Regions from separate parts of the Homo sapiens genome. Here region 1 is linked to region 2. The links come from fine-mapping of genetic effects on gene expression. A gene starts in region 2. The other region holds a variant in brackets. All regions are shown on one strand. Distances are from middle to middle.

Evidence for each region. PIP is the estimated chance that this variant, and not a neighbour inherited with it, causes the effect.
Region 1: its variant is fine-mapped to the expression of NAB2 in whole blood (TOPMed, PIP 0.95).

Annotation. Positions count from the first base shown.
Region 1 is chr12:57,109,235-57,112,131 of GRCh38, forward strand. It overlaps STAT6 (signal transducer and activator of transcription 6), which reads right to left and starts at 2,128. Exons shown (of 22, transcript NM_003153.5): 1 at 1,895-2,128. LOC124902946 (a long non-coding RNA gene) reads left to right here and starts at 1,488. Exons shown (of 2, transcript XR_007063334.1): 1 at 1,488-2,607; 2 at 2,723-2,897. RefSeq lists enhancers at 1,254-2,201, 2,202-2,897. The variant G/T (reference allele first, on the strand shown) is at 1,180.
Region 2 is chr12:57,087,951-57,090,847 of GRCh38, forward strand. NAB2 (NGFI-A binding protein 2) reads left to right here and starts at 1,164. Exons shown (of 7, transcript NM_005967.4): 1 at 1,164-1,404. The coding sequence starts at 1,322. It also overlaps a transcript of NEMP1 not described here. RefSeq lists an enhancer at 436-485 and a silencer at 756-1,375.

The DNA.
Region 1 (2,897 bases), 21 kb after region 2:
AAATGAAAACCACAAGGCTAGATGATGAAGAGGATGGGAGAGTAATAACAGCTACTATTTGTTAAGCACTTACTGTGTATGAGGCATTACACTCAGTGTATTATCTCCTTCAGGCCTCACGACACTTTTTAAAATATATAATATCCCATTTTATAGATGAAGAAACTGAGGCTTAAGGAGTTTCTCTACTCTGCCCAAGGCCACTCAGTAAGTGAGTTTGGAAAGCAGGCTTTGAATCTGAGTGGGGATTAACCATCGCACTGTGTTGTTAGGATCCCTTCCAGGGGCAAATCTGATCATCCTAAGAAGTGGGGGAAGGTGGGAGGAGACTTGAAGGAGGAGAGGTGGAAAAGGAAAGTAGAGAGAACTAAGGAAGAGGATGGAAGAGACTGGAAAAAAGGCGGGTTTAGTAAGCTAGGAGGAAAGAGCCTAGAAGAGAGAGGAAGCTGGAGGGCTAGAAGGCAAAGATGAGAGACGAAAACAGGTAGAAAGGAGAGGAGGGGACAGGGAAGTAGAAGAGGGGGTTGCATCCCCATTTCCAGGTTCAGGGAGGACTGGGTAACCAGTGGTTTCCCAGGGGCCTCTCAGTTCACGTTTCTCATAATATCCCTCTCCCAGAGATGAGGGAGAGGATGGGATGACAACTCCCCAGGTCTCCCCAAACCCAGTAACCCCAAGTCCTCCTGTTGCACGTTCAGCCTCTCACCTCTCCCAGGCCTCTCAGAGGGATGGAAAATGGAGAGGTCCCTTCTCTGGACGTTTCTGCTCCAAGACCTTCATGCCCCTCTTTCCTCCAGTGCCCACTTACCCCAGCTCTTTTCTCCTCAAGGCAGAATCCTTACCCCTCCTGCTCAGGTTCCTCCAATAGGCCTTTCTCTAGCCCAAGAGAGAAAGGTCCTCTGGAGTGAGTGGGCACCGCTTTCCTCTGCATCCCCTTGCAGAGTGACCAGCCTCCTGGCATGGCCCTGGCTAGAAATATCCAACCCCTCTTCTTCCCCAGCCATCAGGAGGACACATTTCTCCCCACCCCAACCCATAACAAGGCTGGGTCGATTGGCTTGACCAGGACAGGGGCACCTTTTGTCTTCAGCCCCTTGAAGGGGAAGGGAGGGAGGAGCCACGGCGTGAGGGGCGGGGCCAGTGTTACCTCCCAAACTCAGAAGGGAAGCGCAAGGTCTG[G/T]GATCCTCGTCCGCCCGCTTGGTGGCCTAAACTCGCTTATCTCAACCCCTATCTGCCCGAGTCCTCTGATTGTGGGACCACAGGATCGAAAGTTAAAACAGCTTCTCTGAGTTGCCCAATGCGTGAATGTGGCGGTGGGGGCAGGCGGGGAGGTGGAGCCAGTTCAGCACGAGGAGGGTTAACTCGGCGCCGCCGCTGGGAAATCTCAGCGTCTACAGCAGCCAAGCGTGGAGCAGTTTTGAGGGGGAAATTCCCCCTCGTCTGGGCCACCATGAGGTCTACATCTGGGGCTTGCTCACGCCCCAGCCACACCCTTGAACAGGAACCTTTAGTGGAGGGCAGGATAGGGGTTTAACAAGGATCCACTGCCCTCTGGCATCAACCTTCCAGGGAGGGGCGGCCACTTCCCCCGACTCAGGGCAGAGGGGCACTCCTTCACCTCCTTTCCCTGACTTTCCATGGCCCTGGGGGTGCAGGGGTGAGGCTGTGAAAACGTGACCCATGGGGGAGGGGAGTACTGAGGCCTGGACCCTCCCAGATTCCTCCAGGAGTTCGAAACTGCTAAAACCCAGTGCCACCAGCCACCAACACTAGCTGAAACCATCTCTTGGGGACCATCCACCCAGCCAGGGGAGGATCCCGAGAGCTCCCCCCACGAATCCACCCCCATGCACTCATAGAGGCCCCCGCACCCACCTCGGAGGCAACCCCTCACCTCGGCAACCCCTCTGCTGTCTTCTCCCTTTCTCAGCGGGCACTTCCAGGCCCCATAGGTCTGTAGCTCTGTCCAGCGAGTTCAAGGCTGGCCCTGCTAGCACCTCCCCCCTTCCACCACCACCACCAAAAAGAAAAATAAGATAAAGCACACACATACATACACACACACACACACACACACACACACACTCCTCTCCCGTCCTCCCTCTTCAGTGTAAGCAGTGGCTGCCCCAGCCCGCTGTTTCCGGCTTCTCCTTCTACCCAGGTCCCTCCCTGGAGCTCTGACGACACAGAGAAGAGAAAGTGGGCTGGAGGAGGAAGAGGAAGAAAGTGGGGTGAATATGTGTGCCTCCTGTGCCGAGTGGGGGAACACGTGGGGGATCAGGACTGGGGTCCAGGCCTTGGAGCCAGGCTTGGGGGGAGGCTGACCCCCACTTACTCTGTCCCCCTCAAAAGCATCAGCTTTTCTCCAGAAAGTCACCCAATATCAAACAGAGATTTGCCACCCCTAACTGCCTGGCTCCCAAACTCAAACTCTGCCAAGGGCTGGGGTTTGGACCCACAAGGGACTGGGCTCCCCAGGGCCTCAGGAAAAGTAAATCCCTCTGGACTCTGCGCTCCCTCCAGTGGAGGACCCTAAAAAGCCGCCAGGGAGCTCGATGCCAGCCAACTCCTAGGTCCCCCTCCCTTCCGGCAGGGAACGCCTTAGAGGTCGGTCTCGTGACCACTGACGGGAGGGAGTGGGGGAGGGGAACCCTCAGCTCAGAATTCTGGAAGACTCTAGGAGTCCCTTGGACTGAAGCTGGTCTTTGCTCTCTCCTCACAGGGCACCCCTCCTGAGACTGTGGTGGGAACCAGCACAAGCCGGAGCTGCTGCCTGCAGATTCACAAGGGGCAAGTTTGAATACGAATCTGCTGTGTTCCTATCTGCCAAGTTCCTATATGTTTCTGGGGTAAACACTGAGACACGCCAAGAAACAAACACACACATGCACAACTTC
Region 2 (2,897 bases):
CAGATGGGGCTAGGAGAAACCAAAGGGGGAGACGGTGGTGGGTTGCAGAGGCGGGGGCTAAGCTCCTTCAAGGCGCTCCTCCTTCCAGCTCCGCCGCAGGAAGTCACGTCGTAGGCTCCCGACCTCTTACTCATCTTCCACTAGACTCTCGGGCGAGGTCCCTAATAGACGGCCCCAGGAAGGGTATCGTCTTTGTCACACAAAATTCCCAGGCAGGGCCTCATCCTCAGCAAACAGAGGACAAGTGGAGGAATCCCTGCCTGACCTACGCGCTGACAAAAGCCGACGCGTCTAATCAACACGCGCACCTAAGTGGTGGCGTGCAGCATAACCCTCCCATTCCTGTTTCCCAAACTTTCCAGGCTAGCATGGAGGCCTGGGTTTCTGAGAGCGACCCCCTCAGATTATTCCATTGGGGCTGAGGAGGGGCGCGGGGATATCTAGGAGATCCCTGCAGAGCCCCACGCTCTCAGGCCCGCCTTAAGTGCACACTATACGGGAGTCAGATGCACGCACAGGAGAAGCCGCACAGCCCAGCCTTCGCTAACTTTTCCCGGCTCACTGCTAACATTCACACGTCCAGCACCACAAGGCCTGAGTATGGGCAACGGGCGTCCCCGTAGTTGTTTAGGCGCGTGTGCACGTCCGTGCGCTTCTGTGTCTTTGTGTACTTGTGCGTGGTTGTGAAACTCCTCTCTCAGCTCGGAGGGGTGGGGGAGAGAAGGAATGTCGCCGGCGGGGCGCTCACGTGGGTACGTGGGCGCCAAGAGGGCCGGCTGTGCATCCGGCGTGGGCGGCACAGAACGACCTCGCCCCGCCCGCTGGGTCCCCAAGCCCGCCCTGCACAGCCGGGCCTCGGTCACCTCGGTCCCCAATTCGGCGCCCCGGCTCTGAATCCCCGCCCCCGCCTCCTGCTCCACACCCCCTCCCCCCCCGTCTCCGCCTCTCCCAGTCTCTAAGCCGCGGCGTCTCCGCGGCCGAGAGGCCCCAGCGCCCGCCTCCCCGGCCCCCGCCCCCACCCCCGCCCCCGGCTCTGCCCACGCCCTCCGCCCGCCAGCCCGGCAGCCAGCGCAGCTCCGGGCCTCGCTCCCTGTGCGTCCTGCGGGGGCGGAGGCGCGGAGAGGCGGCAAGCGCAGCCGGGGAGGGTGGGGGGGCAGAGGCACAGACAGAGGCGCGGAGGCTCGGAGAGAGAAGACGTGGAGGGAGGGACAGAGCCTGGACAGCGGTGGACACGGCATCGTGCGCGGGGAAGAGGGCAGCACGCAGCAGGCGCCGAGCGCCGGGCACCGAGAAGGGCAGCCCGGGTGATCTCCGGCCGTCCATGCACAGAGCGCCTTCCCCCACAGCCGAGCAGCCGCCGGGCGGAGGGGACAGCGCCCGCCGGACCCTGCAGCCCAGACTCAAGTTAGTGGGCAAAGGGAGGCAGCGGGGAGTGGAGATGGGTGGAGCTGGACTTGGGAATGGGGTCCAGAGGGCGGAGGTCGAGGGGAGGACGTGGGGAAGCAGGACGGGGGTGGGGGGTGGAGACTGATGGAAAAGGGGGTGCGTCTTCGAATTAGGGGGCCCTGGGAGCAGGCAAGCATCTGATGAAGCTGGATATGAAAGAGTAGTACCCAAATCTCCATTCCTGGTTTACTCTGTGGGCTCCATCTGGCCTAAGAGCCCCCTGCAAAGAATGTGGGAGCCTCCAAGCACCAGGGGATGCCCTGGAGCTCGAGCTGGCATCAGTGCGGAAGGTGGGGGGACGCTCAGTTGCCTCAGTCCCTCGTTGGCACGGAGCGCGCGGGCCCCCGGTGCCTTTGAGTTAAAGGAGCATCAGCGGGGGAAAGGGGGGGTGACGAGGGAGGCAGGGAGGCCTTAGGCGTTCCTTCCCATATCTGTCCCTTTATTCACAGAGCGGGGAGGGGAGTTTCAGTGTGCAGCCCCTTCATCAAGAGGCCTTGAGCCGCTCCCCCACTCCACTTGAAGATGCGGGTGGAAAATATGGGAGAGGAGAGTAGGCGGGAGCCCCTGGGCGGTTTTCGCCTACAGACGCTACCACTGTGGGAGTGTGTGTGGGCGGAACGGCCCCGGAGCAGAACAATTGCGCCCCTCCCCCTGCCACGGCCCCTGAGCTGAAGGAAAAGGCTGACCGAGGAAGTGGGGAGTGTCACTGCTAGGAGAGGGGCCACTGAGGAGCACTGGGCAGCCTGGAAGGGTGGAGAGGTTCTGAGGGGAGAGAGGAAGCGTGCGTTAAGAATGCTTAACCAGGCCGGGCGGGCCCGGTGGCTCAGGCCTGTAATCCCAGCACTTTGGGAGGCTGAGGCGGGTGGATCACGAGGTCAGGAATTCGAGCCCAGCCTGACCAACATGGTGAAACCCCGTTTCTACTAAAAATACAAAAATTAGCCGGGCATGGTGGCGGGCGCCTGTAATCTCAGCTACTCAGGAGGCTGAGGCAGGAGAATCGCTTGAACCCGGGAGGCGGAGGTTGCAGTGACAGCGCCACTGCACTCCAGCCTGGGTGACAGAGCGAGACTCCGTCTCAAATAAATAAATAAATAAATAAATAAATAAATGCTTAACCCCTGGGAAAAGCTGAGCGGAGAAGAGTAAGGCACCACCTGGCTCACTGAGTGGGAAAGCCAGGGAAGGTGCCACACCCTCCCTTTTAGCCACCTGGGGCTGTGGCCCCTTCACAGGGAATGAAGCTGGCCAGCAGCGTCCACTGTGGGGGAGACTGGGCTCCTACATTCACTTTAGTATGGGTGACTTCACTTCAGTGTTGAGACTGCTGAGTGTTTAGAGGGGAAGGTGAGGATTGTGTTTTGGGGGAGAGGGAGGTCCAGCCATCCCAGGTCGGTGCTGGTCAGCCTCAGCGCTCAAGTTCTTCTTGCCCCAGACCAAAAAGATAAAAG